Linked DNA regions of Homo sapiens. The protein of the gene in region 2 purifies or fractionates together with the protein of the main gene of each other region. This does not show direct contact. Each region holds a gene or a part of one and is shown on either strand. Other genes may lie near its edges.

The links.
Region 1: the proteins of ATP5F1C (region 2) and MTCH2 fractionate together in Homo sapiens (co-fractionation; 2 studies listed by BioGRID). This does not show direct contact.

The regions. Positions count from the first base shown.
Region 1 is NC_000011.10:47,618,560-47,625,587, forward strand, and holds part of MTCH2 (mitochondrial carrier homolog 2), read right to left. Parts: intron 4,218-7,028; coding exon 4,142-4,217; intron 361-4,141; coding exon 274-360; coding exon of another isoform or gene 241-273; 3' UTR 1-240. UniProt on the Homo sapiens protein: Protein insertase that mediates insertion of transmembrane proteins into the mitochondrial outer membrane. Catalyzes insertion of proteins with alpha-helical transmembrane regions, such as signal-anchored, tail-anchored and multi-pass membrane proteins.
Region 2 is NC_000010.11:7,798,177-7,805,204, reverse strand, and holds part of ATP5F1C (ATP synthase F(1) complex subunit gamma, mitochondrial isoform L (liver) precursor), read right to left. Parts: intron 6,216-7,028; coding exon 6,011-6,215; intron 5,775-6,010; exon of another isoform or gene 5,704-5,774; intron 5,434-5,703; coding exon 5,290-5,433; intron 5,179-5,289; coding exon 5,114-5,178; intron 2,936-5,113; coding exon 2,780-2,935; intron 2,448-2,779; coding exon 2,351-2,447; intron 1-2,350.

The sequences.
Region 1 (7,028 bases), on a different chromosome or scaffold from region 2:
TCAGGAAAATACAACTTTTTTTCCCTTCTGGTTAAGTAAAATAAGAATTTGGAGCAAAAATATCCTAATTCAGAATAACTAAAGGGGGAGTATCAGTGGTAAGTTATGTTGTGCTGGAAAAAAGAACAAAAAAGGCAGACACCAAACACCTGAATTTTCCCAAGATTAAATGATTATTAAAAAAGCGCGCCACACTGTATAGAAATCAACATTCTCTCCCATAATTCTGTGCATCTGGGACTACAGAAATGTCACTGTCCCTGCCCCACATCTTCAAATTAACATTTTCAGGTCACAACAATAAGTCTTCCCAAAGGGGACCTTCCGGAAAAATAAGCTATTTCCTCGGCTCATATTCCCCTGGAAAACAAAACAAAACAAAACACAAATAATATCTAGCGAGATGAGATCAGCCAATCCAAATCAGCAGAGAGGTCCAATTGGGAGACGTGACTAAATCTAGGACAAAACTGGGACTATCACTACAGAACAAGGATTAGTATTCTCTGAAAGGCTGAGCTACTATGAACTAACTACAATTTCTCCTTATTAAGTTCTTACTCTGGGCAGACAGAACGCCCAGGTTGGATTCTGGCTTTGCCACTTTCCAGCTGGCTTAGCAAATGAGTCATGTAGAACAGTGCCTAACATTCAGTAAGTGCTAGCTTTCATTTATTTCTTTGTTTTTCTTTTTTGAGATGGAGTCTCGCTCTGTTGCCCAGGCTGTAGTGCAGTGGTGCAATCTCGGCTCACTGCAACCTCTGCCTCCCAGGTTCAAGCGATTCTCCTGCCTCAGCCTCCTAAGTAGCTGGGAAAGGAACGCGCCACCGTGCCTGGCTAATTTTTGTACTTTTAGTGGAGGTGGGGTTTCACCATATTGGCCAGGCTGGTCTCAAACTCCTGACCTCAAGTGATCCGCCTATCTTGGCCTCCCAAAAGTGCAGGGATTACGGGTGTGATCCACCATACCCGGCCTATTTATTTCTTAATGAAATGAAATCATGTTTCTAAGGACTACTTATAAAATCTTATAATCAAAGTAATAACAACCTGGACAACATAGTAAGACCCCATCTCTACAAGAAATTAAAAAATTAAAGGCCGGGTGTGATGGTTCACACCGGTAATCCTAGCACTTTGAGAGACCAAGGCAGGAGGATCACTTGAGCTCAGGAATTTGAGACCAGCCTGCACAACATGGCAAAACCCCGTTGCTACAAAAAATACAAAAAATTGGGCAGACATGGTGGCTCACGCCTGTAATCTCAGCACTTTGGGAGGCTGAGGCAGGCAGATCACCTGAGGTCAGGAGTTCGAGACCAGCCTGACTAACATAGTGAAACCCCATCTCTACTAAAAATACAAAAATTAGCCGGGCGTAGTGGCGGACACCTGTAATCCCAGCTACTCAGGAGGCTGAGGCAGGGGAATTGCTTGAACCTGGGAGGTGAAGGTTGCAGTGAGCCAAGATCGTGCTATTGCACTCTAGCCTGGATGACAGAGCAAGCCTCCGTCTCAAACAAAACAAAACAAAACAAAACAAAAAAACAAACAAACAAAAAACAAAAAACAGGGGTGAGGGGGGAGGGATAGCATTAGGAGATATACCTAATGCTAAATGATGAGTTAATGGGTGCAGCACACCAACACGGCACATGTATACATATGTAACAAACCTGCACGTTGTGCACATGTACCCTAAAACTTAAAAGTATAATAATAATAAAATTAAAAAAAACAAAAAACAAAAAACAAAAAAATGAGCTGGGCTTAGCGGTATGTGCCTGTAGTCCAAGCTACCTGGGATGCTGAGGTGGGACGATCACTTGAGCCAGAGACCTCAGCCAGGAGGCAGAGGTTGCAGTGAGCCAATACCATGCCACTGCACTCCAGCCTGGGTGACAGAGTGAGACCCTGTCTCAAAAACAAAACAAAACAAAAAAATTAACAGGACATGGTGGAAGCATGCCTGTAGTCCTAGCTACTTGGGAGGCTGAGGTAGGAGGATTGCTTTACCCCAGGAGTTTGAGGCTACAGTGAGTTGTGATGCCACCACTGCACACCAGCCTGGGCGACAGAGCTTGTCTCTAAAAAATAAAGAACCAAATAAGTAAATAAAAATAAAGTAATAATGTTCTGAGTGCAACTGAGTACACTCTGGAGTATAAATCTGAGCCTTCCCAAATATAGGCCATGTGACCTTGCATTATGTAATTGGCACTAAACTGCTCTAAGCCCCAGTTTCTTCATATGTGAAATGGGTGATTAAGAATGACACCTATTCTCACACAGCTGTTTTGAGGATTACATGAGCTGATGTAAGAAAAGCTCTTAGCATGATATCTGGTATACAGTAAATGCCCAATCAAGATTTGCTGTTGTTGTAAGCACCTACAGGAACAACTGTTCCTACTTTAAGTGTGTTTGACACCGTAATCCATTCTCTGTCTGCTTTCTTCCTATAACAGAGTGTTAGTCAGAAAAGGAAGGAAGGAAAGGCCATTTTTTCCATTTAAACAGGGACCACACTGTACAATAGAGAGTAAAACTCAGAATGAAATGCACAATGTTCATAGTAGGTCTGTACTGAAATCATTCAAGTATTCAAGCTTGGATTCACAGAGGGGCTTTGTGGGCACACTAAGCAAGAGCAACTACAAACAACACTTAGGCCTTTTCATTCAGATTTCAAAGGCCTTTCTCTTATATATCACTAGTGCTATAAAATAATGCAACAAAGAGCTTCTTTATACGCTTTCTTCTACAATCTTTTAAGAAGTGGACCCCCCTTCAAAAACAGCTTTAAACTGATAATCATTTTAAGTGATCCTGTGCTAAATTTAGCCCACAGCCAATCCATTTGTTGTTGTTATTGTCTTTTTTTTTTTTTTGAGATGGAGTCTTGCTCTGTCACCCAGGCTGGAGTGCAGTGGCACAATCTTGGCTCACTGCAACCTCCACCTCCTGGGTTAAAGCAATTCTCTTCCCTCAGCCTCCCCAGTAGCTGGGACTACAGGCACACGCTGCTACGCCCAGCTAATTTCTTTTGTATTTTAGTAGAGATGGGGTTTCACTGCGTTGCCCAGGCTGGTCTCAAACTCCTGACCTCAAGTGATCTGCCCGCCTTGGCCTCCCAAAGTGCTGGGATTACACCTGTGAGCCACTGCACCTGGCCTGTAGTTTTTTGTTAAGAGACACGTCTGGCTGTGTTGCCCAGGCTGGCCTCAAACTCCTGGACTCATGTGATCCTCCTGGCTCAGCCTCCTGAGTAACTGGAACTATAGGCATGAGCCACCATACCTAGCCGTTATTTTATTTTCCTTTTTTGGATACAGGGTCTCACTCTGTCACCCAGGCTGAAGTGCGGTGATGCAATCTTGGCTCACTGCAGCCTTGACCTCCTGGGCTCAGGTGATCCTCCCACCTTAGCCTCCTGGGTAGCTGGGACTATAGGTGCTATGCCTGGCTAAGTTTTTGTATTTTCTGTAGCAATGAGGTCTCATCATGTTGCCTCAACTGGTCTCAAACTCCTAGGCTCAAGCAATTTGCCCACCTAGACCTCTCGAAGTGCTAGAATTATAAGCGTGAGCCACTGCACCCAGCCCATTATTTTATTTTCCAATAAAGCTTTGCCTAGATAATAAATAATTTTTTGTTGCAGATTATACACCTCATAGTAATAACAAACCCTAAATTGGTATCTAGGCAAAATCATCCACTAACAAGACTCTAGAAGTATAAGACCAGCTCTGTCAATACCACTGTGACAAATAAGTGGTTATGAAAGGTGAGTTTGGGGGAAAAAAAGAGTCTAAAATCAAGGCCATCATTTTACCAGGATAATAATCTACCTGGATCGTATTTGTAAGTTGAATGTGGGCACTCAAATGGCTTCTAGGTCTCATCTAGGGATTCTTTCTTCTTCATTACTCCTGCTCATGATTTCTAAACATCACATTTTACTATTATGCCAAAGTGAAAACACAGAACACTGTAAAGTGTACATTAACTGGCAGACTAGACTAACTCTAGCTAAAGTGAGCTACAAGAGTTAACTTGGGATTCCAGAGACAATATTTAAGAAAACAAATAAATAAAAATAAAACAAAATAAAATGAGAGAGACAGAGAAAAAGAAATACCTCTTTTTGTAGCATGCACCAACAGTCTATCCAAGACGTATATATTGGGGAGTAAGGAGGGCATCCACCAGCAAGACTAAAATAGAAAAAAACATGGAGCTATTCATGTTAATATTAACCATTCTCTTGAGACGTTGATAAACCTTGTCAAAATATTCTGCTGCACAGAAGATTCCCTGAGAGATCATTTTAGTTCAATGAAACAAATCATATTGAAGCAGGGGAACGATCAAGCATCCAAAAGAGAATTCCTCCCCTATATTTAGGTTTCAAATAAATAAATAAACATAAACTTCAACCTTAATTTCTAAAACATTTAGACTTTTCCTTTGTGGACAAATGAAACTCCAGAACACAGCATTTACATGATTAAAGAGCAGGGAAAGGTGGCCGGGCACGGTGGCTCACACCTGTAATTCCAGCACTTTGGGAGGCCAAGGCAGGTGGATCATTTGAGGTCAGGAGTTCAAGACCAGCCTGGCCAACATGGTGAAACCCCATCTCTACTGAAAATACAAAAACATGAGCTGGCATGGTGGCGCATGCCTGTAATCCCGGCTACTTGGGAGGCTAAGGCATGTGAATTGCTTCAACCCAGGAGGCGGAAGTTGCAGTGAGCCAAGATTGCACTACTGCACTCCAGCCTGGGTGACAGAGTAAGAACCAGTCTTTTTTTAAAAAAAAAAAAAAAAAAAAAGAGCAGGGAAAGGAGATTTAAAAACTAACTGGTGTTCACAAAGATACTAAACATGAAAACGGATATAAACAGTAGATATATATGTTCCTACTTAGGTATAATCACTTCATCTTGAAAAAACTGTAAATAATAATAATACATTTAATTCATCCTTCAAGTTTACACTGTGCTAAAAAATGGCAGTTGCTCTACGTATCAGAAAACATCACAGCTTGCCAGGAGTAACATGAAACAAACAAAACCAGAAAACAAACAATGTAAAATGTTCAAAACTCCACATAGCTATCTGATCTTATTTGAAAACAGTAACATGTTTAATGATATGTCAGGTACCATATGGGAAAAGAATTTTGAATTAAACAAAAAAGGCAAGGCTGGGTGCAGTGGCTCACGCCTGTAATCCCAGCACTTTAGGAGGTCGAGGAGGGTGGACCACTTGAGGTCAGGAGTTCGAGACCAGCCTGGCCAACATGGTGAAACACTGTCTCTACTAGAAATACAGAAATTAGCCGGGGGTGGTGGCAAGTGCCTATAATCCCAGCTACTCTGGAGGCTGAGGCAGGAGAAGTACTTGAACCCAGGAGGTGGAGGATGCAGTGAACCAAGATCGCGCCACCACAATCCAGCCTGAGCAACAGAGCAAGACTCTGTCTCAACAATAACAACAACAAAAAAATACAAAAAATTAGCCAGGCATGCTGGTGGGCACCTGTAATCCCAGCTACTCAGGAGGCTGAGGCAGGAGAATTGCTTGAACCTGGGAGGTGGAGGTTGCAGTGAGTCGAGATTGCACCACTGCACTATAGCCTGGGCAACAGAGTGAGACTCCATCTCAAAAAAAAAAAAAAAAAGGCAAAATTTTGCCCAACTCAGTAGAGTCACTTGGCATCTAGAATTTGGAAATCAATGGAGTCTACCACTATACCAAAACCTGCCCTTCTAACCAATACAGAGAAAAGGTCATCAAACTTTCCATAGACTAAATATCCTAATTCTGGTTCTTTAAAACTCACTTTCTCCATAAAGCCCCTAGGAAAAACAGGTATGGATTGTCATTTAATCCCTGATATACCTTTTGTCACTTTCATAGAAAAGATAAAGATTTAAAATAACAATATGTTGGCTGGGCATGGTGGCTCACCCCTGTAATCCCAGCACTTTAAGAGGCTGAGGAAGGAGAATCACTTGAGCCTAGAAATTTAAGAACAGCCTGGGCAACAAAGTGAGACCCTGTGTCTTCACAAAAAATAATTAGCCAGGCATGGTGGCATGCACATGTACTCCCAACTACTTGGGAAGCTGAGATGGGAGGATCCCTTGAGCTCAGGAGTTCAAGGCTGCAGTGAGCTAGGACTTCACCACCACATTGCAGCCCTATCTCTAAAAAAATTAAAAATAAATAAAAATAGGCCAGGTGCAGTGGCTCACGCCTTTAATTCCAGCGCTTTGGAAGTCCGAGGTAGGCAGATCACCGGAGGTCAGGAGTTCAGGACCAGTCTGGCCAACATAGCAAGACCCCATCTCTACTAAAAATGCAAAAATTAGCCCAGCATGGTGGCACATGCCTGTAATCACAACTTCTTGGGAAGCTGAGGCATGAGAACTGCTTGAATCCAGGAGGTGTCTGTTGCAATGGAGCGAGACTGCACCACTGCACTCCAGCCTGGGTGACAGAGTGAGATTCTGTCTCAAAAAACAAAAACAAAAACAAAAACAAAAACTATAAATAATAATAGTAATTGGCCTGGCATGGTGGTTCATGCCTGTAATCCCAGCACTTTGGGAGACTGAGGCGGGTGGATCACTTGAGGTCAGGAGTTCGAGACCAGCCTGGCCAACATGGTGAAACCCTGTCTCTACCAAAAATACAAAAATATTAGCTGGGCATGGTGGCGAATGCCTGTAATCCCAGCTACTCAGGAGGCTGAGGCGGGACAATCACTTGAATCCAGGAGGTGGAGGTCGCAGTGAGCCGAGATCATGCTACTGCACTCCAGCCTGGGCAACATAGCAAGACTCCATCTCAAAAAAAAAAAAAATAATAATAATAATTAATAAATAAATACAAATTGAGGCTGCTGCTGCATAGGGCATACAAAGAAAAAAATTAGGAATCTTCTAATGGTATCAATTATACTTTTCCTCCCCCCCTTTTTAAAAAAATACCAATCAGAGATTGATACTGATCAT
Region 2 (7,028 bases):
TTGTATTAGTCCCCATGTTACAGATGACAAAGCTGAGTAACAGAGAGAGTATCCTAACCAAGTTCATCAAGCTAGACACCATGAGACAGTATTCTGTGATGCTGATAGAACATTGGTGACCAGGCTGTGAATGGGTTAGTCCTAACACAGCTGTGCTTAGAAAGTAAAATAAGAGAAGAATGCTTAGGATAGCGAGGCTGATGGATCCAACTAACAACTTACACAAAGGTCTCTGTTGGCTCAAAAAGTTCTAGTTGTGTCTCTCTGGCATTCTGCCCAGTTTCTGCCCTTGAAAAGTAACACTTAAGGAACACTTTAAATAGTGATGAACTTTTCCCTGACTCTTAAAACCATGGACCCACATTTTCATACACCCAATAAAATGTTATTTGTCCCTCTTCTGAACTTCCAGTTCTGAATACATATGGCATTTCATTCATTCATTCAACATTCACGAAGGAGGTATGTACCAGGCAATGGGGACACAAAAGTGAATAAGATATGGTCCCATCCTAGCCTCGAGGAGCACACAGACAAATAAAAAGCCAATTCCTCATACAAGGCTGTAAGAGCTAAGCTAAATGGAAGACAGGATGCTGCAGAAGGCTGCCTCACTCAGACTGAAGGAAGGAGTGTTTTCTGGAAGAAAGGATTCCCCCAGCTGAGTAAGGAAGGATACACAGGAGGCAGTCAGATGAAGAATCAAGGGAGCAAGGGAAGAAATAGTGGCTTTTCAGGCTGCAGCACATGCCACTCCCTGGCCGCGAGAAAGAGTGACGAATCTGTAGATCTGGAAGTAGATCAAGGTGGCTGAGGTTCAAGGACGTGAGAAATGGTAATGGTAAGAGACTGGACTGGGAAGAGTGCTGGTGACCAGAAAATATAGGATCACATACATCGAGTGTTTCTGCAGAATGAGTGTATAACAGAGAATGGATTTTGTTATTTTCCTCATAACACTGTCACAAGAATAGGCAAATTTTTTCGGTGAAGGGCCACACAGCAAGTATTCTGCACTCTGTGGGTCACACGCTATCACTCTCCTTTTTCTTATATCCCTTTAAAAATGCAGAACCCATTCTTAGCTCCAGGCCACAGTTTAGCAACCTCTGTTCTGCTGTGACTTCTTATTTAGTGTCTGCCTTTACTGTGAAGACTGAGCTCTCTGAAGGCAAATACTGTTACCACTGTATCCTCAGTGTCTAGCACAGGGCCTGACACTTAAGGGGCACTCAAATAATTACCTTTTTGAACCCAGGAGAGAAATGACAAGGATCTGCATTAAGTGGGCATAAAGAAGGGGGAAGATTCAAGAGATAGTTAGAAGGTAAAACTTAAAGAGCATGGTAACTGATTAGCAGGAGGTAAGAAGGAACGAGTCAAAAAGAACTTACTACACGTTTTATCTAATCACAATTACTTGTATGTTTCTTATCCTATTAGAATATAAGTGCCTTAAAAGAGAGAATCACATCCTTAACACTGTGTCTAGCACTGTACTGTGCACATAGTGGGTATTCAACTTAATAACTTTTTGAATAAAATTCCCATTATCTTAACCTTTTTTTCATAAACATTAAAGTTTTTCAACAACTAAGAAATTTTCTTGAGGAAAGCAGTATATAGTTGGCCCTCAGTATCCATGGATTCAACCAACAGCCGATGTAAAATATTTGGAAAAAAGACAAAAATAATGATAAAATAATAAAAACAAAAACCAATACAACAACAATTTACATAGCATTATAACTAGAGATGATTAAAAGTATACGAGAGGATGTGCATTTTTTATATGTAGTACTGTGCTATTTTATTTCAGGGACTTGAGGATCTTCAGATTTTGGTATCCTGGGGGAGGTGAGAGTGAGTACTGGAACCAATCCACTGCAGATACTGAGGGATGGCTATACTATCTTTTGGTACTGATATAGAAAACATAATGATTAAAAAACATAATGATTAAAAAATTCCTGGACCTTCCCAACATGCAATGGTTTATAGATTTATGTAAAACCAAATCTGAAACTAGCCCTGTAACTCAGAAAGCTTGGCTTACAATTGTTTAAATTCCAAAAAAAGATTTCATAAATGATACTGAATTATCCACATCCCATTCCTAATCCTTTAGAAAACCGAAAACTAAGCCCGAGTGTTTCCAGCTGAAACAATAAAAATAAAGCAAAGAGGTCCCATTTTTACCACATCTTTATAGCCTAAGAGTTAGGATGCAAGTTTCAGCAATGAGTTTCAACTTCAAAAGAAAAAAACGAAAAACTTTTAAGCATCCAAACAAGCAGACACAGCAAGAGGAAAAAAAATTCTCTGAAGGCGACAATCTACAATTACTCACAGAGCTGCAGCACCAGAGATAATTTCAATCAACTCTTTTGTGATGACAGCTTGGCGGGTACGGTTGAATGTCAATGTCAATTTGTCAATCATCTCAGCTACAAACAAAACAAAAACACTACATAAAAAATCTGAAACTAGAGTAGAATAACTTGTTAACTAACTTCTGTTGCTTAATTTAAAAGTAAGAAATTTTTGGATACCAAAATTGGCCTCTCAAATAATGTTATGAAGATATTTTTACATCTTCCATAGGATACCTTTTCACAGTACTTGCAAATCAACTACCTATCAAGATATACTTTCTTACAGGTACAGGAATATCATGTTAATGTTGTTGATGCTACTCTCGGCCACGGACTCCTCTCAGCTGAGATTCACTGTGTGCTCACAAGCACTCCTGCTGGCACTGTCCATACTGTGTACTTACAAGCATTCTTGCTGGCATTGTCCATGGCTGTCATCCTGGCACTCTGCTCACTAGTGGTGGACTCCTTCAGAGAGTAGTAGATGATGTTGGCCAGATTGTATTCTTGGTAATTTTGCAGCACGTCAGCATCAATATCGTCATAGATACTCATGCTGTCTGTTAAAACAAGTGATGAGTTTCTTTCAAGTTATATGGAAGGAATAGTAATTCATCAAAAACAGCTTTTCAGTGTAAAACTCCTTTATAATTACAGAGCAGAAATTAATGCTAGATAAGGTAAATGAATCTGTTCTAATAATGTCATCTATTTCCACACTACAGATGATAGCATATTTTTAGCAAAATATAATGTGTAAATAAACCATTTGATATTCTACTCCACATGTGTAACTTTAGAAAAATTAGGTCAACATTTGAAATAACTGCACTATATCTCGTGGTTATGAAGCCCTCTGGACAGCATTAGCATGTGCCTGTTACAAAGCCAGCAAGCACTCAATGCTTTTTCCAGTAAAAAAGAATAATAATGAATTGAAACGAATTTAGTGTAATACAGGTTGAGCATCCCTAATCCCAAAGTCCAAAATCTGAAGTGCTCCAAAATCTGAAACATTTTGAGCACTGACGTGATGCCACAAGTGGAAAATTCCACACCTGACCTTGTGTGATGGGGTGCATTTGAAACTTTGTTTCATGCAGAAAATTCTTTAAAATATTGCATAAAATTGCCTTCAGGCTATGTGTATAGGGTGTACAGACTCAGGTCCTGTCCCCAAGATACTGCATTATAAATATGAAAATATTCTGAAATCCCAAACATTTCTGGTCCTAAGCATTCACACAAGGGATACTCAACCTGTGCAGTAATTCCAACTTAGTCATTTGATTACTGAAGAAATCTGAATGTATCAATCTGGAAAATGAGAGAGGGAAAACCTTTCAAAGCACATGAAAGAGTGGGAGAACTAGAAATTGGTATGAATCGTAGTTTTAATGTTGTAGAAATTTAGAAGTACATTTCAAAATTCATTCATTGGGGTCAAGTGGTGACACAGTACTATATATTATCAAAATACTATATTTCATTAAATGGTACTGGTTGTAACACCTACTTTATTTCTCATTAAGAGAGAAAAAAATGTACTCAATTATAAATGATGTTCCATTGGCTGGTAGAGCCATCTCAATTTCAGAAACATTAACGTGTAAAGTACATACTTGAAAATAAATGAAGTATTAGAAAATAGATGGTATATACAAGGGAAAAAAGCCTTAGAAAACTAAAATCAGTTCCAGAATATTATTCCAGGATGCTTCAATGATCAATGATGACTTTATTCCAACAATAAAACAAGAGAATTGAGTCAGTCAATGTAAATTAGCTGTGAACACTGTTCAACTCTCTATTCTAGAGCTTCTGTTTTATTGTAGTTAGAGGTCCCAAACATAACTTGCAAAGCCAGTTTCTAGCTACGCTCTTCAATCCTTGAGGACAAAAAAATCTAATGATGAACCTCAATAGATACTGACTTTTCAATTAATGACAGAATAGAGCAGGAGTTATCAAACAATGACTGAATTAAGTATCATGGAAGTCAAGAGATGGCACTTCTCAGAAACAGCCCCAGATCGGCCGGGTGCAGTGGCTCATGCCTGTAATCCCAGCACTTTGGAAGGCCAAGGCAGGTGGATCACTTGAGGGCAGGAGTTCAAGACCAGCCTGGCGAACACGGTGAAATGCTGTCTCTACTAAAAATACAAAAATTAGCCAGGCGTGGTGGCGTGCACCTGTAATCCCAGCTACTTGGGAGGCTGAGGCAGGAGAACGGCGTGAACCCGGGAGGCGAAGGTTGCAGTGAGCCGAGATCATGCCATTGCACTTCAGCCTGGGTGACACAGTGAGACTCCGTCTCAAAAAATAAAAAATAAAAAAATAAAAGGCTGGGCTCATGCCTGTAATCCCAGCACTTTGGGAGGCCGAGGCGGGTGGATCACGAGGTCAGGAGATTGAGACCATCCTGGCTAACATGGTGAAACCCCGTCTCTACTAAAAATACAAAAAATTAGCCAGGCTTGGTGGCGGGTGCCTGTAGTCCCAGGTACTAGGGAGGCTGAGGCAGGAGAATGGTGTGAACCCAGGAGGCGGAACTTGCAGTGAGCCGAGATGGTGCCACTGCACTCCAGCCTGGGAGGCAGCAAGATTCCATCTAAAAAAGAAACAGCCCCAAATCATTTGCTATAGCTACCACCAGATATCTTGACACTGTCTGCCTTAGTGTACAAATCTCTCCATTCTATATGCCAAAAAATATGTATCATAGAAAAACTACTTACCAGCACTTGCAACGGTATTAAGGGAAAAGATGGGCTTTTCTTCTGTCTTATAGGAGATGACAGACCTAGAATTGACAAAAACAAATGTAAATCTCAAAATAATTTTTAAACTGTTATTTCAAAATATGAACAAAAGCATGAACATAAAAAAGCTTTGATTTCTAAATCTGTCTTGCCTGAATTTATTAAAGATGATGGAGCCTTCATCAAATTCATATCCAGAATTTAGTAATTCAAGGGCAATGACTGACGCATCTCCAAAAGTGGGGGGCTTTCTTCCCACTTCTTTGAATGCCACCAGAAACTGGTCAGAATGAGTCCTATAAGAAAAGCAAGAGCTCACATAGCTAGTTTAATAAGATTTCTGCTGAAAGAGCACAGGGGACAGGCAGGAGAAAACATTGTCACCATGGATCAGGTCTTTTGGGGTATGGGTGGTGGTGATTTCCTGAGTTGTTCCACACACTATCATCATTCCTTTCCTTCAGCACCTGCAAAGAACTAAGAACTAAAAATGAGGTCTGTTTTATATTCTTTTCCCCTTTATTCCTCTCCTTCTAATCCTAATGAACTATTGCTAACATTTCCAGGCTGTAACAGCTCCTCAGATGCCTCATTTGGCTTAATGCTGATAGCTTTTGATATTCACATGGCATTCAACTTATGATCCGGATGAAGAAGCAAAGGTAGAAAACAGGGGAAGGAAAACAGAAATGTTCCAATATATCCTGGAAAAAAGAAAAAGGAAACAAACACCCCCTTGTGAATATACCAAAAAAGGCCCTGAAGAATATACCTTGTTATTGATGAAGGTTTTGAGAGTTTGTCAAAACTTTTGAGAGAAGATTTATTCGTGCTTACATCTTTATGAAAATAAACAATATATATTTAAATTACCTATAAAGTATGCCTCTGATTTTGTCACCAATTCCAACAAGCATAACTTCTTTCCCAGCTGCTGTTAGTGTAGCAACCTCGCTTTTCATCTGTTTAGCAATGGAGGAATGAATAGCACCACACAGTCCTCGATCTGAGGACACACCAATAAGGAGGTGTTTCTTCTTGTCTTCAGGCCCCTTGATATCAGCTTTTTCATACAGAGCTTAAAAACAAACAAAAGCAGTAATTTTTTTATATGCAATACACTAAATACAATAAATCTCTAATTTACAAAGCAGTTGGTTATTTCCAAAATACGCATTTAAATTTAGCTGGCAACTGCCTAGTGTAAGCAGGTGTTCTTAGGACAGCTGTAAGCTGAGGCCGGGCACAGTGGCTCACGCCTGTAATCCCAGCACTTTGGGAGGCCGAGGTGGGCGGATCACCTGAGGTCAGGAGTTTGAGACCGGCCTGGCCAACGTAGTGAAATCCCGTCTCTATTAAAAATATAAAAATTGGCTGGGCACGGTGGCTCACGTCTGTAATCCCAGCACTTTGGGAGGCCAAGGCGGGCGGATCACAAGGTCACGATATCAAGACCACGGTGAAACCCCGTCTCTACTAAAAAATACAAAAAAATTAGCCAGGCGTGGTGGCGGGCGCCTGTAGCCCCAGCTACTTGGGAGGCTGAGGCAGGAGAATGGCGTGAACCCGGGAGGCAGAGCTTGCAGCAAGCTGAGATTATGCCACTGCACTCCATCCCGGGAGACAGAGCTAGACTCCGACTCAGAAAAAAAAAATACAAAAATTAGCCAGGTGTGATGGTGGGGGCCTGTTAATCCCAGCTACTGGGGAGGCTGAGGCAGGAGAATCGCTTGAGCCTGGGAGGGGGAGGTTGTAGTGAGCTGAGATTGCACCATTGCACTCTAGCCTGGGCAACAGAATGAGACTCCATCTCAAAAAAAAACACAAAAAGAAAACAAACAAAAAACAACAACAAAACACACACACACACATAAAAAAACAAAGGACAGCT